3 separate regions of the Homo sapiens genome follow, and all the other regions are linked to region 3. Evidence: fine-mapped expression QTL. A gene starts in region 3. Each other region holds a variant in brackets. All regions are shown on one strand. Distances are between the middles of the regions.

Region 1 (10,357 bases), 29 kb after region 3:
CTGTTCTCTGTGTTTCTCTAATTGTGCTGTAGTGCACTAGTCTACCCTCTTAACAATATCATGAGCCTCTTTAAGGAAGGGCCTGTTGTACCCTTTCTTGGATTTGTCTCCAAATTAAGCACAATTATAGGTTCATGGTAGGCAAGTGATACATTCATAGTTTCTAGTAGCTTTGTTTCCCTTTCTCCCCATTTGGTTATCTTTCTTTCTGCTCCTTTTTCTTTGTCATTCTGTTCTTTTCTTTTTAAAAAACTAGCTGACTCATCCTTCATTGTTCTCTGTCCTCCTTTATTCCTTCTTTCCTTTCCCCATCTTATTTGCTGGCTTTATGTCTAAGTATAAATAAATATGCTTATGATCTCACTAAGCTAAAATGCCAACCCTAATCGTTATTTGGAATATTTTTCTTCAGTCATATTTCTAGGTTTATGGAAAAACATGGGATATTTACAGAATATAGTTTAAATGTATGCTTTATATCTGCGTATAGGTGTTATAGATAAAAATAGTTTTTGACTGAAAAAAAGAGTAAAAAAAATCACCTTGCTAAAATTAAGGCAAATGTGATTATGATGAAGTTATTTGAGTTTATTTTATAGTTGCTAAGCCTCAAGTGATGGAAATATGTAAACTGTAAAAAGTTTAAGGTGCTAGATGTTTTCATGCTGAAATTATAGATTGTGCTGTTACAACTTTCACAACATTGTTTGCTTTAAGACTGCTTCGTATGCAAAATAATTTTTTAACCCAGCAATTGCAGAGTATTTAGATCATTTTCCAAGTATGGAGAAAATATTGAATTCAAAAGGATCACAAATAAAATGACAAATTTACCTTCAAATGATAACAATTTATCAGTAATTAAATGGCTAGGCTCGAAAGGGACCTAAGTTTTAGGTATTTCAGTTTAGCTACTGACTTTTTGAACTGTACATTTTGTAGTACTACCCTTTAAATGTAATCTTCTTTAATTTTAGCAAGATGAGTATCATATGGTTCATCTAGTATGTACTTCTCGGACTCCTCCCAGTTCTCCAAAATCCAGCACCAATAGAGAAAGTCATGAAGCATTGGCATCCAGCAGCAATTCTGTGAGTTGTTTTGGGAGGAGTAAACATTGAACTTTTCTTTTTTTTTCGTCGTCGTCTTATTTTTTGCCTCTAAAAACTAAATGAAAAACAGAACAATTGGAGCTTGTGAATTTTGAGATTGTGTTTTGAACTAAAGTTAGGCATTTTGTAAAGTTTACCATTTTGAAAGATCTAATACGCAGTGTTATCCCTTGAAGTCTATTCACCTTGAGTTATAATTTGCTGTATGGCAGGTCAGTAATAGATTTAATCTTCAAAGGTTTAATTACTGGAATACTCAGAAAACGGAATTATGTTACGGTTATATAATATAAACTCTTAGGCCAATGACGTTTCAGAAATATGCCAGGTATTTAAAATAGTATATTTTATTCAAGGTGGATTAAATTGTTTAAAATTTAAGTACCCTAAATCTTCTTGAAGTAGATGACTTGGTCAAGGATTTTGTTTTTTAAAAATGACTGGATTTGGGTGTACATTCCACCTGCTTGGGGAGGAAATACTTAATGTATTAATCTCTTTCAGACTTGGGTATTCATTCCTCCATCCTTATTTTTCCATCTGCCTAAAATTGTTTTGGAAATGTTTTGTAATAGTTGACCTTCTCAATTTAGACATTTTCTACAAATTTCAAAAACATTGTCCCCAATCCTTTTATGTTATTTTTGATTTCCCATAAAAGCTTTCTATGACACCTTTGCAGGTGAGAGGATTGGATGAGTGGAAGCTTGCTTTCAACTTCTTGAGCAGTCAGGGAACTTTTCTACTGCTAAGTATGCTTTCCTTGTCAAGACTCCAGCCAAAGCTTGAAAGAGAGCACAAGTGACAGGGGTGGGAGCTAGTTGAAAACTCTCTCAATAGATACTAGTTAACTGCTTCTTTAAGAAACTAGCTTCTCCAGTTGCTGTATTTAATTTGTATTCTCTTAATGGTAACTATTTCCTAGTACCAGCCATGGGAATTTAGCTTACATTAAACTAAATAAAATATGCCTTGTCAAAACACCCAAGGGTCTTTGTATGTTTCCTGCCTTGGCATGGAAAGGCACAGACATTGGCATTGGCACAGAGTTTTTTTTTGTAGTCGTCGGACACAGTTGCATTGCTTCAATTTTTGTTGGGAAAGAACCCTCTGACTTTGACTTGTCCAGTGGGTTGCTCAGCCATGATTTTGTGTCATTAGTGTGTATATTTGTTTTTTTCAGTGTTATGAAAGCCTGAAAAGTATCAAAGGAATGTTAAGTTGAATTCACCTTAATTTTTCATGGTTCAGAAATTTCAAGGGACTTGAAAATATTTTAAAGATCTAATCATAAAATAATTACCTAATAAGGTCAGAAATCATTAGTTCTAGAGAAATTAGGTTGTGCTGCCAAATGACTAGGCTTTTCTTCTAATAATTGTATTAATGAACACCGTATTATGATGGCCCATTTAATGAGAAATCTTGCTGAAAAAGAAACCTTTCCCAGTTTATGTTCCTAAGAATCCGGACTCCTTAGTAAGATATTTGATATCTATTGTGTGTGAAGTAACATTTTAAAAGTTTTTGTTAGTCTTGCAAAAGACTGGTGTGGACTGTTTTGCAAAAGACAGTTTTGGACCTTTCACATTGCAGGACTTAGCATGGGAGTCATGCAAAAAGACATCCTGTCAATAGGAAGGCAGTACGGGTAAAATACAATTTAACAAAATTGTTAAAGGAAGGATGTTAAAATAATACTGTACCTAGCTTTTTAAAGTGGAAGAACTATAATTTATGTAAAATGTAATTGTGTTTTAAATGTACATGAAACACTTGACAAACTATTTTCAAACAAATTGGGATGGTCTTCAGGGAGTTATATTGTTTATGGTTACTGAATCCATGAGCACGAGAATAAAAAGATTTGAGCATGAGAATAAAAAAATACTGATTAACATCTTGATTCTCGTAGTTCATTTTGTAAAAAAGCAATATTTGTTGGTGATTTCTATAAACTAATAGAATTCTAGAACTGAAAGGAATCTTGAAAATTTAGTCCAATCTCATTTTCTGTAGGAAAGTGGAAACTCTGAGAGGTTAAGTGAACCTTTAAGGTTATAACTCTTGTTAATGTCAGAGATAACACTAGATTTTAGATCTTTTGATTTCTAGGATTTCTAGCCTGTTTCTCATTACTTTAAATCAATATGTTAACAATAGCATGTTGTACAGTACTTGGCACATAGTAACTGTTTAAATGACTCAGTAATTAGTACCATTTATTGAACACTTTCAATAAATGTATGTGTTAGGCATCATGAAAGGAGCTTTGCATGCATTAATTTAATCATGTGAAAAGAGCTTTTTATGCATTAACTTAATCCTCAGAATTTAATATGCTGTTTTTGTATATTATTATTCTGCTCCTCGGCCATTTCTAGTTGAAAAAATGGAATATTTTAGTTTAATTAAGCAGTTTTGATAAGTTTTGACGTACTAAAATTAAAATATCTACTTATACTGGACACACGATGTAAAACAGTAAATTTCTGAAATGTTATTTTGCAGAGGGATTTCATGAATACGTTTTTAGTAATGTGCCTGTAATTTTATGATTGTAAAGAACTAAATCTCCTTTTAAAAATTACATTTTTATTTGTAGAGTTCAGATCATTCAGGATCAACAACTCCATCATCTGGTCAAGAAACCTTGTCTTTAGCTGTGGGTTCTTCCTCAGAAGGATTGAGGCAGCGTACCCTTCCACAAGCACAAACTGACCAAGCACAGAGTCACCAGTTTCCATATGTAATGCAAGGGTAAGTGAAATTGTGGTAGCTATGGAATGTGATTGGGGCCCCCTAAAAATGAATTGCTTTTGAGTTTCACTATAGCCTCTTTGCAGTAATTAAAGTACATTTTAAATTTATTCATATATTTGATTTTGTATTTTGAGAACTAGAGGGTTAAGAAGAGCACTGCTTTTCAAACCTGGCTGCACATGAGAATCATGTAGGGCAGTGCTTTCAATCTTGAATGTTTGTCCTAATCACCGGGAGACCTTGTTGAGCTGCAGGTTTGTATTCAATAGGTATGATGGGGCCTGAGAATCTGCATTTCTGACAAGCTCCCAGATGATGCTAATGCTTCTGATGTTTGGACTACACTTTGAATAGCAAGGATCTACGTAACTAATTTTTTTTTACTCAGTCTCACTATAGATCTACTCAATTTAGTGTTTAGGGGAATGTGGTTGAGTGAAGGTATACTTGAAAGAGTACAGAGCCCAGCAATCTGTTTTTAAAAGTTTTTAAACGTTCCACAAGTGTTTCTAATCAACTTGGTAACAACTGTGCTAGAGTAAAACCATGATGTATTACAGGGATATGCTAATCTTGCTGCATGTTGTCCAGAATCTTTGTTGTATTGAGAGTTTTATAAAGCAGTTTTCTTAAGAAGCTTGCCATAGTCACCCTATATTTAGCAATTACAGCAGGCCCCTTGGGTTAGGCACTTCCAGAGGAAATGCAGCCACAGGTAAAGCAGCTTAGAGAGTAGGATCTTGGAGAACATGGTTTGGACCAGGGTTGTGTGTGAAAGCAGACTGTTTTACTGGGGTATTATTGTTTGTTATTTTTGAGGTAAAGGAAGCTTGAGTAACAGATAGTGATAATTTCTGTGTTGCGTATCAAGCCATGGGGCTGCAGTGTGTGGCACTGGTCTGGATCCATGATGATGGAGCTAGAAATGAGAATATGGCTAGGACCTCAGAATTGTAATGTAGGTGGTGTAACCAAGGAGTAGCTATTGACTGCTGTGCTCAACAGGACGGCATAAACACTCAGGTACTTTTTACTTAGAACTTTAAACTTAATTCAGTTATTAATACAGAAAAACAAAGCTGAATATATAGCAAATAGAAGAGAACTAATTTGTCTCAGATTTCTTAAATGTGAAGCCTTTTCTTTCAAAATAAATGTTTAGATGAGGCTGGTTGTAGACTTTCATAAAGTACCTGTGAAACTATTTTTGTTTTCAGAAAGTGATTACTATTAATATAAACCAAGATTTACTTGTAAAAAGCAGTGTTCTCAGGGTTTATATTATGGAACAGTAGCTTCAAATACTTTGTCTTATGACAGTAATTCACTTCCTTTCTTTTTCACAGAGTAAGTTCCTCTCAGTTTATACAGAGTGATTTTACTTATTTTATTTGGTGGTAGTGGTGGAAGGTGGGAGTATTATAAATAAGCCTGGAAAAATATATAGTGCCACATTAATAGTGGTTATCTCTGGATAAAATTTATAACTCTTTCTCTTACTTACAGTGAATATATTTTGTAATAAACAAATCAAGCTTATAAGATTACAGGTCTTCAGAATAAGACCATAGATACATTGGTAAAAGATTAATAATTTCTCTAAACTAGGCTATTGAGAAAATTAATAAACATAAAAGACAAAAGCATTCAGCTCTTCGAAGTATATTAAGCTGATTAGAAAAATCTGAAATAGGTGGCGCCAAGATGGCCGAATAGGAACAGCTCCAGTCTGCAGCTCCCAGCATGAACGATGCAGAAGATGGGCGATTTCTGCATTTCCAACTGAGGTACCAGGTTCATCTCACTGGGGCTTGCCAGACAAATAGGTGCAGCCCATGGAGCAGGGCGGGGCATCGCCTCACCTGGGAAGCGCAAGGGGTCGGGGAATTCCCTTTACTACAAAAGGGAAGCCGTGAGAGACTGCACCTGGAAAATCGGGATACTCCCACCCTAATACTGCACTTTTCCAATGGCCTTAGCAAACGGCTCACCAGGAGATTATATCCCGCGCCTGGCTCAGAGGGTCCCATGCCCAAGGAGCCCTGCTCATTGCTAGCACAGCAGTCTGAGATCAAACTGCAAGGCGACAGC[A/G]AGGCTGAGGGAGGGGCATCTGCCATTGCCGAGGCTCGAGTACATAAACAAAGTGGCCAGGAAGCTCGAACTGGGTGGAGCCCACCTCAGCTCAAGGAGGCCTCCCTGCCTCTGTAGACTCCACCTCTAGGGGCAGGGCATAGCTGAACAGAAGGCAGCAGAAACTTCTGCAGACTTAAATGTCCCTGTGTGACAGCTTTGAAGAGAGTAGTGGTTCTCCCAGCACTGAGTTTGAGATCTGAGAACAGACAGACTGCCTCCTCAAGTGGGTCCCTGACCCCCGAGTAGCCTAACTGGGAGGCATCTCCCAGTAGGGGGGCGACTGGCACTTCATAAGGCTGGGTGCCCCTCTGAGATGAAGCTTCCAGAGGAAGGATTAGGCAGCAACATGAGCTCCTTGCCAGCAGCGGAACAAAGCTGTATGGAGAATGACTTTGACGAGTCGAGAGAAGGCGGCTTCAGACAATCGGTAATAACAAACTTCTCCCAGCTAAAGGAGGATGTTTGAACCCATCACAAAGAAGCTTAAAAACCTTGAAAAAAGAGTAGACAAATGGCTAACGAGAATAAACAGCATAGATAAGTCCATAAATGACCTGATGGAGCTGAAAACCATGGCACAAGAACTACGTGATGCATGCACAAGCTTCAGTAGCTGATTTGATTAAATGGAAGAAAGGGTATCAGTGATTGAAGATCAAATGAATGAAATGAAGTGAGAAGAGAAGTTTAGAGAAAAAAGAGTAAAAAGAAATGAACAAAGCCTCCAAGAAATATGGGACTATGTGAGAAGACCAAATCTACATCTGATTGGTGTACCTGAAAGTGATGGGGAGAATGCAACCAAGTTGGAAAGCACTCTTCAGGATATCATCCAGGAGAACTTCCCCAACCTAGTGAGGCAGGCCAACATTCAAATTCAGGAAATACAGAGAACACCACAAAGATACTCCTCGAGAATAGCAATTCCAAGACACATAATTGTCAGATTCACCAAAGTTGAAATGAAGAAAAAAATGTTAAGGGCAGCCAGAGAGAAAGGTCTCATTACCCACAAAGGGAAACCCATCAGACTAATAGCTGATCTCTCGGCAGAAACTCTACAAGCCAGAAGAGAGTGGGGGCCAATATTCAATATTCTTAAAAGAATTTTCAACCCAGAATTTCATATTCAGCCAAACTCAGCTTCATAAGTGACGGAGAAATAAAATCCTTTACAGACAAACAAATGCTGAGAGATTTTGTCACAACCAGGCCTGCCTTACAAGAGCTCCTGAAGGAAGCACTAAAACACGGAAAGGAACAACCGGTACCAGCCCTGCAAAAACATGCCAAATTGTAAAGACCATCTATACTAGGGAGAAACTGCATCAACTAATGAGCAAAATAACCAGCTAACATCATAATGACAGGCTCAAATTCACACATAATAATATTAACCTTAAATGTAAATGGGCTAAATGCTCCAATTAAAAGACACAGACTGGCAAATTGGATAGAGTCAAGACCCATCTGCTGTATTCAGGAAACCCATCTCACGTGCAGAGACACACATAGGCTCAAAATAAAGGGATGGAGGAAGATCTACCAAGCAAATGGAAAACAAAAAAAAGGCAGGGATTGCAGTCCTAGTCTCTGATAAAACAGACTTTAAACCAACAGATCAAAAGAGACAAAAGGCCATTACATAATGGTAAAGGGATCAATTCAACAAGAGGAGCTAACTATCTTAAATATATATGCACCCAATACAGGAGGACCCAGATTCATAAAGCAAGTCCTTAAAGACCTACAAAGAGACTTAGACTCCCACGCAATAATAATGGGAGACTTTAACACCCCACTGTCAACATTAGACAGATCAACGAGACAGAAAGTTAATAAGGATATCCAGGAATTGAACTCAGCTCTGCACCAAGCAGACCTAATAGACACCTGCAGAACTCTCCACTCCAAAACAACAGAATATACATTCTTGTCAGCACCACATCACACTTACTCCAAAATTGACCACATAGTTGGAAGTAAAGCACTCCTCAGCAAATAAAAGAACAGTAAATTATAACAAATTTACTCAGTAAAAGAACAGAAATTATAACAAACTGTCTCTCAGACCACAGTGCAATCAAACTAAAGCTCAGAATTAAGAAACTCAGTCAAAACCGCTCAACTACATGGAAACTGAACAACCTGCTCCTGAATGACTACTGGGTACATAACGAAATGAAGGCAGAAATAAAGATGTTCTTTGAAATCAATGAGAACAAAGACACAACATACCAGAATCTCTGGGACACATTTAATACAGTGTGTAGAGGGAAATTTATAGCACTAAATGCCCACAAGAGAAAGCAGGAGAGATCTAAAATTGACACCCTAACATCACAATTAAAAGAACTAGAGAAGGAAGACCAAACACATTCAAAAGCTGGCAGAAGGCAAGAAATAACTAAGATCAGAGCAGAACTGAAGGAGATAGACACAAAAAACCCTTCAAAAATATCAATGAAGCCAGGAGCTGGTTTTTTGAAAAGATCAACAAAATTGATAGACCACTAGCAAGACTAATAAAGAACAAAAGCGAGAAGAATCAAATAGACACAATAAAAAATGATAAAGGGGATATCACCACTGATCCCACAGAAATATGGCCATCAGAGAGTACTATAAACACCTCTACGCAAATAAACTAGAAAATCTAGAAGAAATGGATAAATTCCTCGACACATACACCCTCCCAAGACTAAACCAGGAAGAAGTTGAATCCCTGAATAGACCAATAACGGGTTCTGAAATTGAGGCAATAATTAATAGCCTACCAACCAAAAAAAGTCCAAGACCAGACGGATTCACAGCTGAATTCTACCAGAGGTACAAAGAGGGGCTGGTTCCATTCCTTCTGAAACTATTCCAATCAATAGAAAAAGAGGGGATCCTCCCTAATTCATTTTATGAGGCCAGTATCATCCTGATACCAAAGCCTGGCAGAGACACAACAAAAAAAGAGAATTTTAGACCAATATCCCCGATGAACATCGATGTAAAAATCCTCAATAAAATACTGGCAAGCTGAATCCAGCAGCACATCAAAAAGCTTATCCACCACGATCAAGTCAGTTTCATCCCTGGGATGCAAGGCTGGTTTAACATATGCAAATCCATAAACATAATCCATCCTATAAACAGAACTAAAGACAGAAACCACATGATTATCTCAATAGATGCAGAAAAGGCCTTTACAAAATTCAACAGCTCTTCATGCTAAAAACTCTCAATAAATTAGGTATTGATGGGACGTATCTCAAAATAGTAAAAGCTGTTTATGACACACCCACAGCCAATATCATACTGAATGGGCAAAAACTGGAAGCATTCCCTTTGAAAACTGGCACAAGACAGGGATGCCGTCTCTCACCACTCCTTTTCAACGTAGTGTTGGAAGTTCTGGCCAGGGCAATCAGGCAAGAGAAAGCAATAAAGGGTATTCAATTAGGAAATGAGGAAGTCAAATTGTCCCTGTTTGCAGATGACATGATTGTATATTTAGAAAACCCTATCATCTCAGCCCAAAATCTCCTTAAGCTGATAAGCAACTTCAGCAAAGTCTCAGGATACAAAATCAATGTGCAAAATTCACAAGCATTCCTATACACCAATAACAGACAGACAGAGAGCCAAATCATGAGTGAACTCCCATTCACAATTGCTTCAAAGAGAATAAAATACCTAGGAATCCAAATTACAAGGGATGTGAACGACCTCTTCAAGGAGAACTACAAACCACTGCTCAGCGAAATAAAAGAGGACACAAACAAATGGAAGAACATTCCATGCTCATGGATAGGAAGAATCAATATCGTGAAAATGGCCATACTGCCCAAGGTAATTCATAGATTCAATGCCATCCCCATCAAGCTACCAATGACTTTCTTCACAGAATTGGAAAAAACTAAAGTTCATATGGAACCAAAAAAGAGCCCGCATTGCCAAGTCAGTCCTAAGCCAAAAGAACAAAGTTGGAGGCATCACGCTACCTGACCTCAAACTATACTACAAGGCTACAGTAACCAAAACAGCATGGTACTGGTACCAAAACAGAGATATAGACTAGTGGAACAGAATAGAGCCCTTGGAAATAATACCACACATCTACAGCCATCTGATCTTTCACAAACCTGACGAAAACAAGAAATGGGGAAAGGATTCCCTATTTTATAAATGGTGCTGGGGAAACTGGCTAACCATATCTAGAAAGCTGAAACTAGATCCCTTCCTTACACCTTGTACAAAAATTAATTCAAGATGGATTAAAGACTTAAATGTTAGACCTAAAACCATAAAAACCCAAGAAGAAAACCTAGGCAATACCATTCAGGACATAGGCATGGGCA
Region 2 (10,357 bases), 21 kb before region 3:
AATAAAGAAAGAAATCTTTGATGACCAGGAAATAATCTGAAAGGCAATTGTTCATGTTCTCATTTGTAAAAAGACTTTTAAGGGGTTGGGTGTGGTGGCACATGCCTGTGATGCTAGCACTTTGGGAGGCTGAGGCAGGAGGATTAGAAGCCCAGGTGTTCAAAACCAGCCTGGGCAACACAGTGAGACCCTGTCTCTACCAACCAAAAAAAAAAAAAAAAACAAAAATAAAAACATAAAATATCTTATTTAAAAAATAAGTCTTAAATATTATTTCACTTTAACTCAACCCTCATGCAGTCAAAGCAAAACAAAACAGAAAATTTGCTAACCTTTAAACCCAGGACAGGATCTTTTACAAGGGCAGCCCTTGCAACCTCCTGGGAGAAAGTTCATTCTCTGGGTTTCAGCTATAGCAGCCTCTCTCCCTTGCTTCTTACTTAGTTCTAAGTTCCTGGATCAGTGTGGCATGCTGGACCCATTGTCCTCGCGGTGTGGAATCAGAAGCAAGCTGTAAAAGCGTGTTCCTTCTGGTTGTTCTGGTTGCTTTGGAGGCTTTCCATCTTCATCACCTTCTGAACTGGCCTGAAGCTTTACAATGGCTCCTTGGTGAGGGGTTGCCTATTAATCACCCCATCTCTGCTCTTACTCACTGGCAGAGCACTGATTATGTTCAGGCATAACAACCCCCACCCCCATTCTCCTCCATCTAAGGATAATGGCAATCTCTCCCTCCTGGCCAAGTGATCCACTTAAACAGGTGTTTGTGACTTGTTCCACAGTTAAGTAAGTGGGTCAAGAGAGTGGCAGAAAGGCCTGCAGGTTTTTCCTTGCCCTTAAAATGAGACTTATGAAAAGAGATACTTTTTGTATCTGCATACTTTTTGCATTTGCATTTTGCATGGCATGATAGCAGCCACCTTGCAACTACCTTTAAGCCAGCTGGAGGACGAAACTGATAGGCTGAGGATGGCAGGGTAGAAAGTGGGAAAGAATTTGGGCCCTTGATTATCAATCAAGCTGCTGAATCAACTGACCCTAGGACTACCCTACTCAAGATGTCTCATTATATAATACACTGTATTTTCCTTTGCTTAAATCAGTTGAGTCAGTATCTTCCAGTATGCGTGACTGGATGCCTCCTGATACACCTGCCTATGTCCACTAATACGGGCACCAAAGAATCTCAGATGGTGGTCATGGGTAGGTTTCTGTTTGGCTATTCTGCAATTTCAGGAGAAGGAAAATGACAGGATAAGAAATTAATGCTGTTAATTGTAATCAATTGTTAATTAAATTTTTATTTTGAGATAACTGTAGATTCACATGCAGTTGTAAGAAATAAGGCAGAGATATCCCGTATACCCTTCAAACATTTTCCCCCAATGGTAACATCTTGCAAAACTATAGTACAATATCACAATGTTGATTTCTACCCCTCTACCTCACTTCAGAGCATATCCATGTATATACATTTTATATTTTAGGCTTCATAAATTCCTAGTTTAAAAACAGTTTACTTGGATTGAACTTTGTACTTTTCCAAGGCATTTTCTAGTCCACTATTTCTCTTAAGGCTTAAAACATCTCTGACTAAGTGAACAAACAGATGAACAAATGAAACAAACATCTATACAATCAGAAGTTAAGGGAGGTTTGAAATAGGCACTGCCACAGAGTAACTGTTAGAGAAGGAGTTCCATGGTACAAACTTTGCACTCTCCATCTACGAAAGGTGGCAGAGTCCTTGAAGTGTTTTTCCTCTCTCCAGCCAGTCCCCACCACTACTGATAATTAAATCCTTCTTGTCAAAGGACAGGACTGGTTCTGGAACAGGTGATTTCAACATCGTGGTGAGTAGTATTATGGAAGCTGGCAAGCACTGTATAAGATGGATCCTTTTGTGCTCATCACCTGTCACGCAAAAAGGTTTGTTATTTTGTGATGATTTCCATGAAATCTCATGGGCTCTATTGGGGGAAAGTTACAAAGCAAGAATTAACAAATAAAGATAAGAGATGGGCCAAAGTTATCTATTGGACACACCATCGGTGGGCATTCCTTGTCCCCTTGCTGCTCTCCTTCTTATAGGGCAAGAGTGAGAACAACCTAGTGGGTGGGAGGGTAATCAGACTTATTGAGTAACATCAGTGTGGGGTTAGACACCAGCTCTCTGAGTTGCCTGGGAAAGTCAACTTTCAGCACCTGAAGGCACTGGGGTCTGTGGAAGGGAGAAACTGGTCTCATGAGCAGTTTGGACGAACCCCTCCTGTGGGGATAAGGTTGGGGGCCTCAGGTGCCAATTGGCTTGTTATCCAGACAATGCAGGTGAGCCACCTAGGTCAGTTGTTGCCAATCCTGATTGTGGCAGGGTACATTTTATTCATCTTCAGATCCCCAGCTCTTAGCACACAGCCTGGCATATGATAGGTACATGAACAATGTCTGATAATGTAATGATTGAATGTGCTTTTGTGCCAATTAAAAACAAGTAATTTGGGTTTTGCTCATGGAAGGAGAGGAGGGCTAATAATAGACATTGTTGCCTACATTTCTTGAATCCCTGAAAGACGGTATACACATTCTGCCCTTACTTTGGTAAAACCTCTCTGAAGAGTCCACAACTCTATGAGGAGGCTTCCTGGTTCAAGCAATATTTTTATTGAATTTTTACTATTTCTTTGCACCACTGGCCAATAAAGCCAGTGTCTAGGATTTGTTATACTGGCACTGAGACACTCAGTAAAGGAAGGCTCTGCTGGTGACAGCAGCTCTGGAATTTTCCACAACCACTCTAACAATCTTTTTGAATCTTCAGTACTTTTACTGAATTAGATACACAGTACAATGGGACACTAGCCACTGTTTGTAAATTTTTCATAAAAACAATTTGGAAAATGACACCCCTTAAACAATTAAATTAAATTAATTAATTTATTTATTTATTTTTGAGATGGAGTTTTGCTCCTGTTGCCCAGGCTGGAGTGCAATGGTGCGATATTGGCTCACTGCAACCTCTACCTCCCGGGTTCAAGCGATTCTCCTGCCTCAGCCTTCCAAGTAGTTGGGATTACAGTCATGCGCCATCATGCCTGGCTAATTTTTTTTGTGTGTGTGTTTAGTAGAGACGGGGTTTCACCATGTTGGCCAAGCTGGTCTCGAACTCCTGACCTCAGGTAATCCGCCCACCTTGGCCTCACAGAGTGCTGGGATTACAGGCATGAGCCACCGCGCCCAGCCAACAGTTTTCTTTAGGGCAGTGTTTCTTATCTTATCACTGCTGAAAAGTCCTTTTAAGACTATTTCTCCACAGACTCCTGTTCTGAAATATTTTGTTTATAAATACATATTTTTGTTAAATAATAATCTTCCCAAGAGGAAATCAAGTAGTCAAGAAATTTTTTTAAACTAAAAGTATCCTTGAGGCTGTATTTTAAGTAAACAAACAATTATCTTTAAGTTTCCTAAAAACTTAAAGTTTCAGGAAAGCTTCAGTTTCAGTAAAAACTGAAAATAACTAGAAGAATTCTCATCCTCTTTATACCCTCGCTTCCCTCCCCACCCTCGCCCCCAGACACTGGTTATTACTTTCCTCAGCTGCTGGGATTCTGGGTATTCTAACTTTGAAACTAGAGTTCCAGAAACACCAGGCAGATAGAATAAAATTAACAAAAGCCTGTGGATTCTCCTAGGTTTTTTGCTATCCATTTACCCTCCTTACTGTTAATGGGTCTTTTACTGTGGCAGTTAGCCCTGCCTCAAAGTCTCCCAAACTGGGGACGATTAGCCCCAGCTTATTGCTAAGATAACATCAAAAGAGGCAATAAGCAAGTTGGCATAGGCAACACCTCTCACCTTAAGGAACTGTCTCCTGAGATGTAGAATAAATCACTTGTCCTCTTTAAATGAATCTCTTCACCATGGTTTTGCTTGATTCCCCCATCCTGAAGTTGCTGCTTTAAGATGGGTGGGAAAATCTCCAGCAAAAGCATAACAAAACAGCAAGTAACAGCAATTTTTTTTTTAACAGAAAAAGGATTATTTTTATTACTTTCATACATTGCCACAGCACTGTTTGGGAAAGATTAGAATCAATAGAAGTTTGGAAATCTGACCTTGGCTGGTGGAAGAATAGAAAGAATCTGGTTCTTCTTAATTTCCCATTCAGGTTCTCAGTGTTCCAGGAAGCAGTTTGCTCAAGTTTCTTTTCTCCATTTAGCTCTCCTGAATGCCCGACTTCAGTGCCTGGGCATTGCTGCCAAGGATCCCGCTGGTGCATTCAGCTGCCATTCAAGGCAACAGCCCTCCACACTGCCTCGCACTTGGAAGTTTGTCTTACAGCATAAAACAGGTGGAAGGACATTCTGCCTTTAGAGTTCTGCTGGCATGTCTTATCACTTCTGTTGTCCAGTGCCAAGAATGACAAAAATCTTTTGTGTATGTTTGGGGGTGGGAAAGACCAGATATAACTGGGAACAGCAGTTAACTTGTTGTTCAGACAAGATTCCCAGGGCAGCTGTTATAACTCAGGCAGCAATAACTCTAACACTTGGCTCTGCTGCTAAGATGGATTGATAGAAACTTTGGACAAATCATCAACAAAAATTATGTTCTCATGAGACTGTTGAATATACTATGGATCAACTTAAAGATAATCAAATATTCGCTAGACTCACAACAAGGAAATACAATAAGCATATTAATCAACTGGGGTTGTGTTTATACTTTCATTTCTAAACATCTGCTTTCAATGAAGTCATTAGTATCTGCTGGCAAAAATTTGAATTGACACAGGACTTGCAATCTGTAGCTACAATTGAGACAGGATTACCTTTTTATGTGCTGACACTCACAGTCTTCTTTAAACTAACAATTTAGTCCACTTCATGATGGAATTCTAAATTCTAATCTGTGAACTTGCCGACTATTTGTCCTTTGCCAAAGACTTTACCCCGTGCTTAATTTTTAGTCTTGACACATATGTGTACACACACATAAACAATCTTTTTGTATTTTTTATACAAATAAAAAGATTATGTTAGTATTCAAATGGTAGTTATTTACACTAAATTAAGTTTACACTTCAGTAGAAGATAAAAATGTGACTAA[C/T]TGAAATAAATAATTCCTGGAAAGAGAATTCTCAACATAAAGTTATATGAATCTCAACACTGTCCATTAAATCTCAAGATTTTCTAAATCTTATTAATGTGCATCAGTTTAAAAAAATAGTTCCAGCTGGGAATGGTGGCTCACGCCTGTAATTCCAACACTTTGGGAGGCTGAGGCGGGCGGATCACCTGAGGTCAGGAGATCAAGACCATCTGGCCAACATGGTAAAACCCCGTCTCTACTAAAAATACAAAAATTAGCAGGGCGTGGCGGCACACACCTGTAATCCCAGCTGCTCGGGAGGCTGAGGCAGTAGAATTGCCTGAACCCAGGAGGCGGAGGCTGCAGTGAGCCAAGATCGCACCACTGTACTCCAGCCTGGGTGACAGATAGAGCAAGACTCCGTCTAAAGAAAAAAAAAAAATAGTTCCGTGGTTTTGCCTTCTTCCTTTCCATTTTGTTAAACATATCCAGACCAAAATTACAATTGCCCCCATTGTAGAATGAGTTGAATGTGGGCATTATTGATACCGTTAATGATTCTGTATCACCAGCAAAGCATAGGATTAAAATTGACCTTGGCTTAAGTTGACTTACATTTTAATTTGGCCATTAAATTGATGCTGGAAAGTTGGGACACACCACACGGTTAACAGCCATCTGGCCTGCCTGTCTCCTTCTATCCTGACAACTACCTTGGCTTACCTAGTGTGTTTTATCTCTTCTCTCTCATCATTGCCTCCACCAGGATTCCTGAGTCAAAGCCCAACATGGCCCTCTGCTGTTGTACTGGCCAATCTGGTCTGTCCTGCTCTGCAGCTGCCAGTCTTCTCTGTCACTCCTGGTACCCCAACAGGCCCAGCAGCCTCTGCCAGTTCTGCTGTTCACTTCCTAACCAATGCCTCAACAACTCCTGTGGTGTCTTCTTCTGCCATCACATTTCACTTCCATTGAGGCCCCAAATCTCTGACACACCTGCTTTCTGCCTCTCTTGGCAGCTCTCAGCTCACTGCTGGCACTTCCATATACCCACATAAAGCCAAACCATAAGGTAAACTCATGGCCCTACCACACTGACTTTGGTTATTTCTCTAACCCCTTGGACATGGCACTGATATTTGATCTTGCTGGGACTCTTCCTTAGAGAATTTTCCCCCTTGCTGCCTTGGGGTGGGGAGCACCCTCCTCATTCCTGCTCTGGGAACGGACAGTGATGGGGCTGCCTCCTGCCTCCTGTTGCCTTCTCTTACCACCTCTGAGTCAGGCCAGCCCAGCAGGTTCCCAGCCTGGCTCAGATTCACTAGAATGCTTTTGTTACCACCTGTTTATCTGTCCTCCACAATTGCAGCACTTTTTTTTGACAGGTTGACAGTGTTTCCTTTGCTGGGCTTTAGGTGAAAAATGTCTACAAATCAGAGTAGATGTGATTAGTGTTAAGAGGGGAAAATAAAACTTACTGTGGGGCAAGAGGTGTGGGAAAGGTCAGATGAGAGAATCTAAACGGAGATATTAGTAGGAGTAAGTAGGAATGAATAGAAGTGAAATGAAAGACTTAGGGGAGATGGGAATATGTAAGAATGAGATTGTGAATATTAAAAGAGATTATCCTTGACCATGAAATCCAACCTACTCAGAACCTTGACATTTGACTGGTTACATGCCCTACACACTTAACATACTTTAACAACCCATTTTATTTAATAAATGTCCTAGAAAAATTAATGAGAATAAAATTAAGGAAGGAAGTTTTCTAATTCCTTAAATATAATTAGTGAAGTCCGTGGAGGTAAGGCTGATACGTAGATCAGAAAAAAAAAAAAACCCTATAGCTTTAACATGAATTTTAAACATAATTTTATCATATCCCAAAGACATGATACAATTGGTGTCTGTGAGTGCAAACATCTTGAGAAACAGTGTGCTAAAATGTTACATGCTAGGATGGCTTTTCACAAAAGTAGATTGTTTCTTTTTGAAATAAGACAATATAGGACAACTCCCCCAGCAATAAATTAGGATTATTCCCTCTATGACAAAGAAGGGGAAAAGGGTTACTCAAAGACAAATCATTATAAATAATCCATTATTCATATAAATTTATATTTTTAGAAAGGGAATATTGGTTAAAAAAAGATATTAAATGCCTGGGCAATCACCAAAATTTATTTTATAGCTCTAGCACTTGTGTTGTCTATATCCCTGATCACACTTTTAAATTGGCTTCAACGTAAATGATGGTTTAAAAAGAATTTTAGGCCATTTCTTTTGAAATTGCGGACCAGGGTTGTTAACAGCGGGAGGATGAGTGAGGTGGGTTGGGTGTGGCATCCTTTGTGTTACTATAAAGCTCTCAATGTTATAAGGAACATTATATTTTTTATTACACTTAACTACTTTCCAGACCACTAATTATTTGTATCTGTGATCAGGAATTCAAAAAACCTCTAAAATTCGATTGTTATTGTTGTTTTCCTGATAAAGATTGAGGAGGTTCCCATTCCAGCAGGAGTAGCTTAAAAAAAATAAAAGCTAAAAAATAAAAAGATTGAGGAGGATTCTGCAGCTTGCAGCTTTAGTAAAGGGCCCTATCCTTATAACAGAAGGACCCAGGAATAATTTTAAAAACTGCCAAATAATCTGCAGGTGATTCTAACACAGTATGCCTACATCCGTAGTCCTTATCATTCACCTACATCGAGAAGTCTCTACAATGTGCTCCTGAATCTCCAATGCACAGATCATGGAAGTGGATCCTATTTCACCACAAAAGCAATATCATAATCAGGAGAGAGGCCTATCAGCAAGGACTCAGAAGTAAATAAAGTATAGATGTGAACAAAATGTGCAATGTAGGCAAAATTACATGGCTATATAATAAGTTAGTTAAATATACTCTGTGTCCTGAGAAATGGGTACTAATACACTATGTACTTTCTTCACCAACATATCATAATGAAAATTTATTTCATACAGAAAATGAAAGCATGTGAGCTAGAATAAATTTTTAGTCTTTATATTTTTTATTTTATGATGTCACAGATCATTGAAAATTAGCACCAAGGACATCTGGTCCAACAGATTTATTTTATTTTATTTTATTTATTTTATTTTATTTTATTATTTTATTATTTATTTTATTTTATTTTATATTTTATTTTATTTTATTTATTGAGACAGAGCCTCACTCTGTTGCCCAGGCTGGAGTGCGGTGGCATGATCCTGGCTCACTGCAACTTCTGCTTCCCACGTTCAAGCGATTCTCCTGCCTCAGCCTCCTGAGTAGCTGGGATTACAGGCGCGTGCCACCACACCCAGCTAATTTTTGTATTTTTGGTTGAGATGGGGTTTCACCATGTTGGCCAGGCTGGTCTTGATCTCCTGACCTCAGGTGATCCGCACCCCCCTCGGCCTCCCAAAGTGCTGGTATTACAGACTTTAGCCACTGAGCCTGGCCAACTGATTAATGTTATAGAGAAAATTGAGAGCCCAAAGAAGTTAAATAAACTGTGACAGCAGAGTCAGGACTAGACTACAGGACCATTAAATCCTAGCACCAAAGCTCTCTTTCTCTCACCCTTATCTCAGCCTAGCTGCTTAGTAATGCATTTACTGGTCTTCCTAACATATAGAAGAACTTTTGGGTCATTACTTGAATAGCTTAGATTATTTTTATTTTGCTTTTTGTTTTTTGTATTTTAGGTTCAGGGATACATGTGCAAGTTTGTTATATAGGTAGACTGTGTGTCACAGGGGTTTTTTGTACAAATAATTTTGTCACTTGGGTAATAAACATATTACCTGATTGGTATTCTTTTGTGATTCCCTCCCTCCTCCCCACTTCCCCCTCAAGTAGGCCCCAGTGTCTGTTGTTCCCCTTCTAGTATCCATGTGTTCTTGTTGTTTAGCTCCCACTTATAAGTGGGAACATTGTGTATTTGGCATTTTGTTCTGTGTTAGTTTACTTAAGATAATGGCCTCCAGCTCCATCCACGTCCCTGCAAAAGATATGATCTCATTCTTTTTTATGGCTGCATAGGTTTCCATAGTATATATGTACCATATTTTATTTATCCAGTCAACCACTGATGGGCATTTAGGTTGATTCCATGTCTTTGCTATTGTGAGTAGTGCTGCGATGAACATAAACATACATATGTCTTTATCTTTCAAAACTATATAATAAATTCTGAAAATATGCCTTTCTTCTTAATCTGTTTCTTCATGCTAAACAGATAAGATTAAAATCATAGCTGCATTTCAAGAAATTGTCTGCAATCCTTCATTTTCTCCAGTAGATGTAAATTTTTATGTGGCCAGACTGTGCAGTGAACAAGCAAAAATAGGGAAAACTGAGCTTCAGGTCTAAATTAAAGCGAACGAAGACTGATGGTAAATGTAGCATTACTATATTAAAAAAAATAAATGTAGTATTTAATCTTAAAAATAAAATGTTAGGTAAAAATAGCAAATTGCAGAAGGCTATGTAGGGTTTTGTGTGGATCTGTCTTCACTTGGTAGAAGATAGCTGAGATCCACTCTCTCCCTGATCACCTATGAGATTCCTTAATCCTTTCCCCTTCTGCAGAGAACTCTGTGAATTAAGTACATGATATGAAATTAATGTCAAATCTGGGATCCATAATCTTATATTACTTCTTCCCCCTCATTTATTTGAATATTTAAAACAATGTATTCTTTAACTCATAACTATATCTTTTCCTGATAATGTGAACTTGATATTTAAATTCTACTTTCCGTCTTGAAGTTCTGTCACCTACACCAAGTTCTGTGTTTGGCTACTCTATTTGTAGTTTGTAGAATCAAAAATATGTTGTCTATAATTTTGTTGCTGTTTGAATTCGAAGTTTGTTCTTCTGATTCCACCATTCATTAGTTTCCTTAAGCAGATAAGTAAATCAGTTATATAGTCAGTTTATTATATCACAGTGAATACTAGGGGACGTATGCAATTGTATTTGTGTTTAGGGAGCATCTTAAACTTTGAACTATTTATGTTAAATTTCTAGAATTCCTTTCTTCTGATGGAATGATTTGAGGCTAAGGTAGGATTTTTGAAAAACAATGACTTTCATTCAAAATTTATCTACTCAACCAAGCAAATGAAAAGGGGCAGCGAAGGAAAAATAAAAATGGGAATGGTAGATGGCAGAAGAAACTGAGAACACAGAAGAAAGCGGTAGGTTTGGAGTGGAAAAATTAAACTAAAAGAAGGCAAGATGAAGAAAAA
Region 3 (10,357 bases):
CTATTTGGAACTTACTGTGTGATTTTGGGCAGGATACTTACCCTTTCTGAGCTTCAGTGTCCTCATTATCTCTCGAGACTGTTCTAAGAATTCATTAGATGACATATAATTCAAAACACCATTTGGGATTTAATGAATGGTTTTGTTTCATTTCCTACAAGATGACTTGTGATCAAACATCTGGGACCATTTACGATTTTTAAAGTAGAGTGTTGAAATGAGCTAATTTTCTTAGGCTTCCAATGTAGGTTTTCATTTTTTAAAAACAATAAACTTGATTAAGATTTGATTAGATGCTTTGTGACACAGTCTCTTTAAAAAATGACAAGGATGGTGAAAGTAGAAATGAATGGAATCAGAAGCCAGATGGCCAACATCATCTCTGAAACTTGAAACCGCAAGATCATCACTTGAAGTCTTTCCTTCCAAGAGAGCTAACAAACTCAAACTATACTATTCAACATCATAAAAGTATTTTAGCTTCCTGGAAGGTACTCCAAATTTCAGTAAGAAAAGCTCAGTGACAAGCACTTACTTTGAATTTTTAAAGGAAACTGTAATCTCACTGAATGAATCAATTTTTTTTTTTTTTACTGTTTTTCCCCAAGATGGAGGTCTCACTCTGTCACTCAAGCTGGAGTACAGTGGTGTGATCTTGGCTCACTGCAACCTCTGCCTCCCGGGTTCAAGCGATTCTCCTGCCTCAGCTTCCTGAATAGCTGGGACTACAGGTGCGTGCCACCATGTCCAGCTAATTTTTGTATTTTTAGTAGAGACGGGGTTTCATCATGTTGGCCAGGCTGGTCTCAACCTCCTGACCTCAAGTGACCCGCTCGCCTCGGTCTCCCAAAGTGCTGGGATTACAGGTGTGAGCCACCGCCCCAGCCACAATATGTGTTTTCTAGCTGTTCTCTTTTACACCTCAAAGAAGAAGTGGAAGTAAACAAACATCCCATTAATTCACAGAAAACCATTATTTACAAATAAGTTTCTTCAAATTTATATTTTATTTGTTAACAAAGAGAGCTACCCAACAGTCAGAAATCACTGAATTGCTAAACTCACTTATTGTGTACTGAATAGTTAATATCGCTAAAGCAGAAATTATACTTATTTTTTAATTTTTAATTTCCATAGTTTTTTGGGGAACAGGTGGTATTTAGTTACATAAGTTCTTTGGCGATTTTTAAGATTTTGGTGCACCCATCACCCGAGCAGTATATACTGAACCCAATTTGTAGTCTTTTATCCCTTACGCCCTTCTCACCCTTTCCCTGAAAGTCCCCAAAGTCCATTGTATCATTCTTATGCCTTTGCATCCTCATAGCTTAGGGACATATGAGAACATATGATGTTTAGTTTTCCATTCCTCAGTTGAAGTAGAAGTATTATATTTATTATTAATGATCATGACTCTTTTATTATCTATTACCATATTATATTACCATGGTACTCTTGAGAGTTCTCATTACGGGCTTTTTTTTTTTGAGACTGAGTCTCACTCTGTCGACCAGGCTGGAGTGCAGTGGCACAATCTCAGCTCACTGCAACCTCTGCTGCCAGAGTTCAAGCAATTCTCCTGCCTTAGCCTCCCTAGTGGCTGGGATTACAGGCATGCACCACCACACCTAGCTAATTTTTTGTATTTTTAGTAGAGATGGGGTTTCACCATGTTGGCCAGGCTGGTCTTGAATTCCTGACCTCAGGTGATCCACCTGCCTCAGCCTCCCAAAGTGTTGGGATTACAGGTGTGAGCCATCGCACCCAGCTGGGGCTATCTTTAGTAGCAGATGGTAACTGAGCTGGGCAATTGTTCTTTGACATTTCCAGTTCTTATCTGTTAACATGGACAGTGATTTAAATAGGCAGCTGCATGGACGGCCTCTCCCTAACTGCTGCTATCTTGTATCTCCTCATTGGTAATTATTTTTCCTAGCCCAAATTCCACGTCAAACACTATCAATATTCTGGGGACCACCCTTTCATACACTGCTCTGTACACATACCTGTTTATACATATTTTAACAAAAGTGGAATATTTACATACTGTTGTTATCATAGCCAAGCTCAACAGCATCAAAAGCATTTTTAGGTACTTAATTCAAGTGGCTGTAAAATTTAAAAAAAATCATTTTTTCTGATACTATATCATCTTTGTACCCGTATATTTCAATTTCTTGAATGTTCATTACAATTTTATTTTTACTTTTTATTCTTTCTTGAGACAGAGTCTCACTCTATCACCCAGGCTGGAGTGCATGGTATGGTCTCAGCTCACTGCAACCTCTACCTTCTGGGTTCAAGCAATCCTCCCACCTCAGCCTTCAGAGTAGCTGGGAACACAGGCGTGCACCACCACGCCCGGCTTATTTTTGAATTTTTTTGTAGAGACGGGGTTTCTCCGTGTTGCCCAGTCTGGTCTTAAAGTCCTGAGCTCAAGCAATCTGCCTGCCTCGGCCTCCTGAAGTGCTGGGATTAGAGGCAAGCCACTGCGCCCAGCCTTTATTACAATTTTAAATGTTTTTCTCTGTGTTAGCGAACCTTTGATGGACTGTTTTAAAGAGTGTTAAAGAGTGTTTAAATCACTGTGAAATGCACATTCTGTCTTAATATTTATAATTATTAGGGTACCTTCATTAATAGTGTACATTGCATAGTGCCAAACGAGATCACCACATCACTTCTAAAGGATTCCTGGAAGTCTGAGTCACAAGCATGAGACAACAGCTGCAGGACTGGGTGGTGAAGGTTGTGAAAACTTCCTGGCTTAAACAGGAATTTGACCCAAAACAAGAAGTCTTAGGGAAGATAGCTTAGGGCTTGTCTGGTGGCACCACAATGCCATCAAATGCCCAGCCTCTTTACAGTTTTCTGCTCTGCCATCCTTGGAATGCAGGCCATTGTTCTCCTGTTTGTTGTTTCATGACTGAACTATGAGTGCTGTAGCTCTTCACGTTCCTCCTGGAAGACAGGTGTAGGGCAAAGATGAGCTCTGATTCGCAGAGCCCTTCCATCTATATGCTTTCTTAGAAGCCTCAGCAATAAGTTCAACATTCAACTCATTGGCTTGAAGTGTGTCAAATGGCTGCCCCTTGCTTCAAAGGAGTCTGAGAAAATAACTTTAGCTAGAATTAAAGTTCCATTAGAGTGCCTGGGTAGACAAAGAAGAGTCAGCTACAGAAGGCCAGTATCATAGCAAGTTGTTGCTCCATGACTGGAAACAAAGAAGACTTCACTCTTTACTTCAGATGCGCAGTTGATAGAGTACAGCTAAGATATGGTACGTGTTCTACCATGAAGAGCAAGAGCAAGGTGAGGGAGGGTACGGTGTAAGAGATCCTGCTGCATTAGCTGTTGAGAGGAAGAATTTCCTCCTGGTCACTATGTTACTGGGGGTCCTTGCTCCCCAAGTTCCCAAGATGGTGGCAGGTCGCTTCCAAGATGGTGACGGGCCACTTCCGAGATGGTGGCAAGTCTTGTGTTCTCTGACCTGGGGTTCTTGGCCTCATGGATTCCAAGGAATGGAATCTTGGGCCAAGCGGCGAGTGTTATAGCTCTATTAGAAGCTGTGGGTCATGGAAGAGAATCGTGGAACCCAGTGACTAGTGTTTAGCTAGATTAGGACGAACCTGGGCACTTAGCCCTGCAGGAACAAGGGCAAGCCTTTAGCCCGATCAGGAGCAGCAATGGGCGCCTCGCTGGATCCAGAGGGATGGAAGTCAGCTGTGGGTCTGTGACAGCGGCAGACAGCAGTGGTGGACGGTGAGCGAAAGCTCAGCTTGAGCTGTGACACACACGTACCAGAAAAGTGTGCAATTGCAAGATTTAATAGAGTGAAAACAGAGCTTCCATACAAAGGGAGGGGACCCAAAGAGGGTAGCCACCGCTGGCTTGAATGCCTGGGTTTATATCCTGATCATTGTCCCTCCTGTTGTGCTCTCAGGCGATAGATGATTGGCTACTTCTTTACCTCCTGTTTTTCCCTAATTAGCATTTTAGTGAGCTCTCTTTACTACCTGATTGGTCGGGTGTGAGCTAAATTGCAAGCCCCGTGTTTAAAGGTGGACGTGGTCAATTTCCCAGCTAGGCTTAGGGATTCTTAGCCAGCCTAGGAAATCCAACTAGTCCTGTCTCTCAGTACCCCCTCTCAACAGGAAAACCCAAGTGCTATTGGGGAGGTTTGACCACCGCTCTAACTGCTTCCTGCTGAATTGGGGCACAGTAGGGGTTGTGCAGTTGAGATTTCCTCCGTAGGGGTGCCTTGTCTCTCAACTAATTCAGTGGTGGCTACCTCGAAGCCCTTCTGAAGCTAAGAGGGAAAGAGACCAGCTCGCAAAGTCCCCTATGTTATCTACTCCTAAGTGGAAGCTGGGAGCTGTGAAAATGCACATCTAACAACCCTTAACTTACTATACCGACTTCTAAACCACAGTAGAAAATGAAGAAAAGTTCGGCTATGGGCAATAGACTCAACCTTTTGTTCTATGTCTAACCTATAAAATAGAAAAATAATACTGTCATCCCTCATCTCCCACCATACTGAACACGCATTAGGTGCTCAATGAATACTTGTCCATTTTAGTGAAGATTAAGAGGAATGAGACGGAAACTGACACTTGAGAGGCTGGCACACGCCAGAACTGCACCACACTTTGCACTCATAGCTCATTTACTCATCAGCTTGTGGTCAGGTAGGCATTACCGTCCCCATTAGAGAAGTCAACGGAGGCTCAGCAAGGACGGCCAGGGTCCCCCAGAAAGTAGAGGAGGACTTCAGGTTTAACCAAAAGCCTGTACTCTTTACACATGTACCCCATGCCTTCTCCACCAAAGCTCCTGGCACCGTGCTTTGCAGACAGACGACGCTCAACACATTTTGAGCAGAAGCGTGGTTCAGCACCAGGAAGGACACCAACTTTTGCAGAGACGACTCTTGGGATGGAGAAAGACTTCCCAAATCTTCAGGGTGCGGTCAAGACAGGGTAGGCTAGCGCCAGGGGAGCTAGTGGCTAGGCCCCAGGGCAGCTGGGGCCGAGGCCGAGCAAACGGCCAGGGGAGAGGCTCCCAGGAGCCCGATCTGCCGCTGGGCGACGCGAAGCCTGGCGGCTAGAGTCCCGGGCAGCCCGAGCACGGCGGGAAGGCGGCAGCAACAGGATCGGCAGGGATGGCGGGGACGGGGGAGGTCCATGTGCAGGGGCGTGCCGCCGGTGACGCACTTCCGCCCTGCCTGTTCCGGCTTAAAGGGGCCCCAGACAATCCTCGCAATAACAACAAAACCGGCGCGCCAGCGGTGGCGCAACGGCTCTCGTCCCCGCCCTCCTGCTACCTGTAGTCGCCTGGGCCGCCCCCGGCCCAGCCCTGCCTTGCCGCCACCCTGCGCTGTCCAGACTGAGGGGTCAGGCGGAGAGCCGGGCCGCGCCTTCGGTCAGCTTCTCTCCCTTTCACCCGCGCCTCCTCGCGAGACCCGGGGCTGGGCCGTGCCGGTCGCCGCGCAGCAGGAAGGGAGCGGCTGCCACGGAAAACGCCTGGCCGGACGGTGTGGCTGGCGGCCCTGCCTGGGCGCGGAGGGCGGCGGTGGCGGGCCCCGCGGCCTTCTCTCAGGTACCCCAGTGCCCGCTGACCGCCCTGAGCGGCCCAGCTGCTTCCCCGATCCGCACCGCGGGGCCGTGGCGTAGGGGCCTTGTTGCGTTCCAGCTTGGGGGTCGCGGTGGGGCGGGGCAGTGACCCCGGGCCGGCCGTTGTGCCCTCATCCCTCCCACCCTTCCTTCGTATAGCTTCCTTTCTCCTCACGACGGCCTCCACAGTCCGGAGCCCGGCGGAGCCCGGACCTGGCGGGGAGAGCTGCCTCCACGGCCGGGCACCCAGACCCCACCGTCGCAGTCGCCACCACCTCAGTCCATCCTTGGTACCGGCAATGGGCTTCGTATCCTCCAGTGCACTTGTAACTGACTTGGACACGGAATACTAAGAACTCACTTCTGTCCTCATCCCAGTCGCGCCGGCGGTGACCATCTCGGCTCTTTTGGGCTTAACTGCCGCTCCTCTGGACTCTGTCTGACTTTGGGGGCACCATGGACCAAAGTGGGATGGAGATTCCTGTGACCCTCATCATTAAAGCACCGAATCAGAAATACAGTGACCAGACTATTAGCTGCTTCTTGAACTGGACCGTGGGGAAACTAAAAACGCATCTATCTAACGTTTACCCTAGCAAACCAGTAAGTGTGTAAAAGCTGGGGGCAGCTGCTCTGACCAGCAGCTTTTCGTGCCGTGTACCCTCCTTTTTCCTGCTTCTCCCCTCCAGTCTTGAATCAAATAGGTCTCTTTTGGTAGACCGCGAGGTATTTTGAGTTCTGAGGTTGTGTCTCCTGAGTGTTCGAACCATCATTAATATTTTCCTGATGAGGTTCAGTTAATTAGTAAGAGGAAGCAGAAATATCAAGGGACTTAAGAATTGGCAGGCAAAGACCGGGCGCGGTGGCTCACACCTGTAATCCCAGCACTTTGGGAGGCCAAGGCGGGCGGATCACGAGGTCAGGAGTTCGAGACCAGCCTTACCAACATGGTGAAACCCTATGTCTACTGAAAATACAAAAATTAGCTGGGCGTGGTGGCGCATGCTTGTAATCCCAGCTACTCAGGAGGCTGAGGCAGGAGAATCGCTTGAACCCGGGAGGCGGAGGTTGCAGTGAGCCAAGATCGCACCACTGCCCTCCAGCCTGAGTGGCACAGTGAGACTCTGTCTCAAAGAATTGGCAGGCATGGAAAAGGGACTACTTTCTTTGGACTTAAAGTCATCAACCTAATATGCGAGTGAGAGATATATCCTTTCTTAAAAAAAAAAAAGATAAAGCACTACAACCCGTATCAGAGCTTTTATTGCTTATTACACTAAAATTCCATTTTACTTTCAACACTTGGCCCAGAAACTTAAACAGAAATTGAAGATTTTTTTTTCTTAGAAATAAGTATGTGTCCCCTATAAAAATTATACTTTCAAGGTTACTATATATGTTTCAAGGACCAAAGAATTATAAGTTGTAGATTCGTTTTCACCACAACCCCTTTCAACATTTTTCTCCTGTAGAGGATACATGGACATTAGTTTAAAAGAGAACTGCCCTCCACCCCACCACCATTTGGTGCATCCCTCTCATATGGCTTTTCCATTCTGTGTTCCATTCTGAATCATAACTGGATATTGCAGAGATAATAAATAAAATATAGACAGTACAGCTCCATCTGTCCCCAAAGTCAGATTTGAAAGGCCGTGGTTGGTAATCAAGGAGTCTTGGAATAGTTTAGAAAAGAAGTATACCGTCATGTAGAGTACTGTATATGAAAGTGAGGCTTTCGCATTCTCCACTGTATACATTTTTTATTCTTGAATAAGTAGTGTTTAATTACTAAAACTTTTGTTTAATAAAGAGGGTCGGATTTTAGGGTGGGAAATAACTTTTGGCATCAGGTACATTTAAGCATGGATCTGTTGGAAGGCAACTATGCTTTCTACACTTAACACTTGTTTTATGCACCTAAGTTAAGGAAGACACTTGATCTATATTACGATATTAATGAATTATGAGCATTTCAGTGTTGTAGTATTAAGTTTAGTTAGGCTTTTAGACTTGCAGAAGAACCACAGAAATAGGACGGTTATTGCAAAAACAGGAGGTTTAGAAAAACAACTCTTAATCGGCATTAGCTGTGTTTATCAGTACTTTGTGATACAAATATTTTTAGTAGGAGGGAAAAAAAACCCTGAGGAATTTAAGTACTTAAACTAGTTAGAGCCCCTGTTTATTCACATCTTTTGTTTGAAAGTTAAGATTTACACAGGGAGTAAGAATCTGTTTGAAAATACCTTGATTACAAAAGATTTCCTGTTGCATATGATTAGTTTCACACATTTTTGAAGTGGAAAATAGGTTTTTAGGATAGTCAATTGAAAGTCATAGACTTCCATAATACTGTTCATAGCAAATATATGCTCTGGTATGTACGTAGGCGAGATCTTTACATTGTACTATTAAACCAAAAGGGACCTAGTCTGCAGTTTATAGACTTTTTTCTAAAGCTTTTTTAAAAAAAAGTACCTGAGACGGGAGTGGGAAGCCTGTCTGCCTTATCTACCCATGAAGAGGCCTGCTTTTGGCAGGAGGTCTGCCTGTGCAGCACTGATCACTAGTGGAGGATGTCAGTGCCGCTGTGCATTAGTTAGCTGTCTGAGGATGAGATCTGTTACAGAACTCCTTCCCAAACTGCCTGCCTCCTGTAGCCACACTGGAGACACTTTTGGAGGCTAAACCAAATACTATGCAGCCTATTAATGATTAACATGGCAAACCTTTTTTTCTCCTTTGACAAGTTTTCTTTAAGTGAATTGTAATGTCTGACTTTCATTTCTAGGTTGAGTGGGTGGAGCTCTGGAGCGGTGGGGGTATGTGTGTTTATCGTCATAGAATTTCACTGAAAACTTTGTATAGTTACTAGATTTAGTAAGTTTACATTCTTATCACGTGAGAATTGATTTGAAGCATCACAGTTGTTGAGCAGCAGTTTAATGGTATCGCAAAGCCATAGGTAGTCCTCAGCATAGGAGTTGGAGTCCTAAAAGTTTACTTTGTAAGGTCATTATTTAGAATTCAGCACAGTTTGCTATTAAGTAATATTATAAAGGAAGTTTAGGTTTTTCTGACCGCCTGCAATGACTAAACATTGATTCTGTGTTTTAGTTTTCAAGTGCTGTTATGTTTAACAGAGATAATTTCTTGTGCATCTTCCTTGCACATATGCCTACTTTCATTATCAGTGTGTGGACTTAGCAGAGTAGGGCTCCAGTGCTTTGTAGGAACAGGAGTGCCCCAGTAAGTAAAAAGTTGATGGCTCTCATCAACATTGCTCTAATTGGATCTGATGGGTCAGGAGTAGGTGGAGGGACTTTGTTCCTGTGGGCAGTGGCTTCTAGGAAAATAAATTGGTGCTGCTAGAGGGGAAAGAATGGAAATTTGAGATTGTCCTTTTAGGATCCTACAAAGATAGGTCATATGTCTATATGCTGTTAATGGAATTCTGGCTGAACTCTATGAAGTTGTAAAATCTTGGGATCCTAGCTTCATGGTCAGATATTGATTTGACTAATCACAGTCTCCATATGGGTATATTAAATTCACTTCTCCCTCCCCTAGCAAACTTAGAACAAATGTACCCCTCCCCCTCAAAGCACATTTTTTTGGGTCTTCATTTATTTATATAACTAGGATTTTATTGGCCTAGCATTTGAATATTTATGCTAAGTGTGAAGATGATGGTAAGAGTCCTTTGCTTTTGTGAAGCTCAGATCCAGTGACATGTAAGTAAATAAGCGTAATAGTATGTGACTAGTATTATACAGGAGGGATGTTCTGTGTGTTGCATAGGAACACAGGAAGGGAATGATCATCTCTGGAGTAGGGGTTAGGGGAATGTGTAGCTGTTTCAAGAAAAGATTCACGGGGACATTTAAGTTTTCTTAAAGAGTTGATTACAGTTTTAAGCAGACAAGAATCAGACTCTGATAGCTTCCTTTTTTATACCGTTCTTTTTTTTTTTTGAGACGGAGTTTCGCTTTTGTTTCCCAGGCTGGAGTGCAATGGCGCTATCTCGGCTCACTGCAACCTCTGCCTCCCGCCTTCAAGCAATTCTCCTGCCTCAGCCTCCCAAGTCGCTGGGATTACAGGCATGTGACACCACGCCCGGCTAATTTTGTATTTTTAGTAGAGATGGGGTTTTACCATGTTGGTCAGGCTGGTATCAAAGTCCTGACCTCAGGTAATCCACCCACCTCGGCCTCCCGAAGTGTTGGGATTACAGGCATGAGCCACCACTCCCGGCCTTAACTATTCTTTTGGAGTTAATGTTTGCACTGATGACTTTGTTTTATATTAGTATATTACTTAGTAATACAGTATTAGGTAAAAAGATTATAGATCCTTAATGATCTGTGAAGGGAAAGGTGTTTTCTGGTTAGGAATTTAGGCAGTTGCCATATTTGTGAAAATGTTCACAAAGTCATAATTAAAAACCTCGGATGTGGAGTTGAGCTGTTTTGGAGTTAACTTTGAATGATATTGATAATTGGTTTAAGACTTGGTTTAGGAAATGGGAAGTGCACTAGTTTATATTACAGAATATATAGATAATTGTGAGTTGTAATATGACATTTGACATCACTTCATGACTAGTTTTTCAGATCCTGAAATTGGGCTGCACTGTGAAATAATTCTAAAATTTAGGTAATTGCTGTTTGGTGGTGAAGATACTTGGCAAGAAGACCACTTTTACTTGAGTTTCAGACTTTAATCTGAGTTTAGACTTA

Direction of the effects. Alleles are on the strand shown, and positions count from the first base shown. SD is a standard deviation of normalised expression in the study named. Not every link is listed here.
With allele G in place of A in region 1, the expression in monocytes of the gene that starts at base 5,196 in region 3 is higher (large effect, 0.76 SD a copy in Quach 2016).

What was found. PIP is the estimated chance that this variant, and not a neighbour inherited with it, causes the effect.
Region 1: its variant is fine-mapped to the expression of HERPUD2-AS1 in monocytes (Quach 2016, PIP 0.95). The same link has a PIP of 0.9 or more in monocytes after LPS, monocytes after Pam3CSK4 and monocytes after R848.
Region 2: its variant is fine-mapped to the expression of HERPUD2-AS1 in whole blood (INTERVAL, PIP above 0.99).

What each region holds. Positions count from the first base shown.
Region 1 is chr7:35,660,949-35,671,305 of GRCh38, reverse strand. It overlaps HERPUD2 (HERPUD family member 2), which reads left to right. Exons shown (of 9, transcript NM_022373.5): 4 at 978-1,091; 5 at 3,718-3,872. Among named protein-coding and RNA genes, the nearest start is that of HERPUD2, 29 kb to the left of the region's middle. The variant A/G (reference allele first, on the strand shown) is at 5,967.
Region 2 is chr7:35,710,627-35,720,983 of GRCh38, reverse strand. LINC03013 (long intergenic non-protein coding RNA 3013) reads right to left here and starts at 4,547. Exons shown (of 2, transcript NR_108083.1): 1 at 4,116-4,547; 2 at 1,272-1,914. The variant C/T (reference allele first, on the strand shown) is at 5,110.
Region 3 is chr7:35,690,045-35,700,401 of GRCh38, reverse strand. It overlaps HERPUD2-AS1 (HERPUD2 antisense RNA 1), which reads right to left and starts at 5,196. Exons shown (of 1, transcript NR_136255.1): 1 at 989-5,196. HERPUD2 (HERPUD family member 2) reads left to right here and starts at 5,267. Exons shown (of 9, transcript NM_022373.5): 1 at 5,267-5,601; 2 at 5,775-6,218. The coding sequence starts at 6,072. RefSeq lists a silencer at 5,389-5,798 and an enhancer at 5,241-6,128.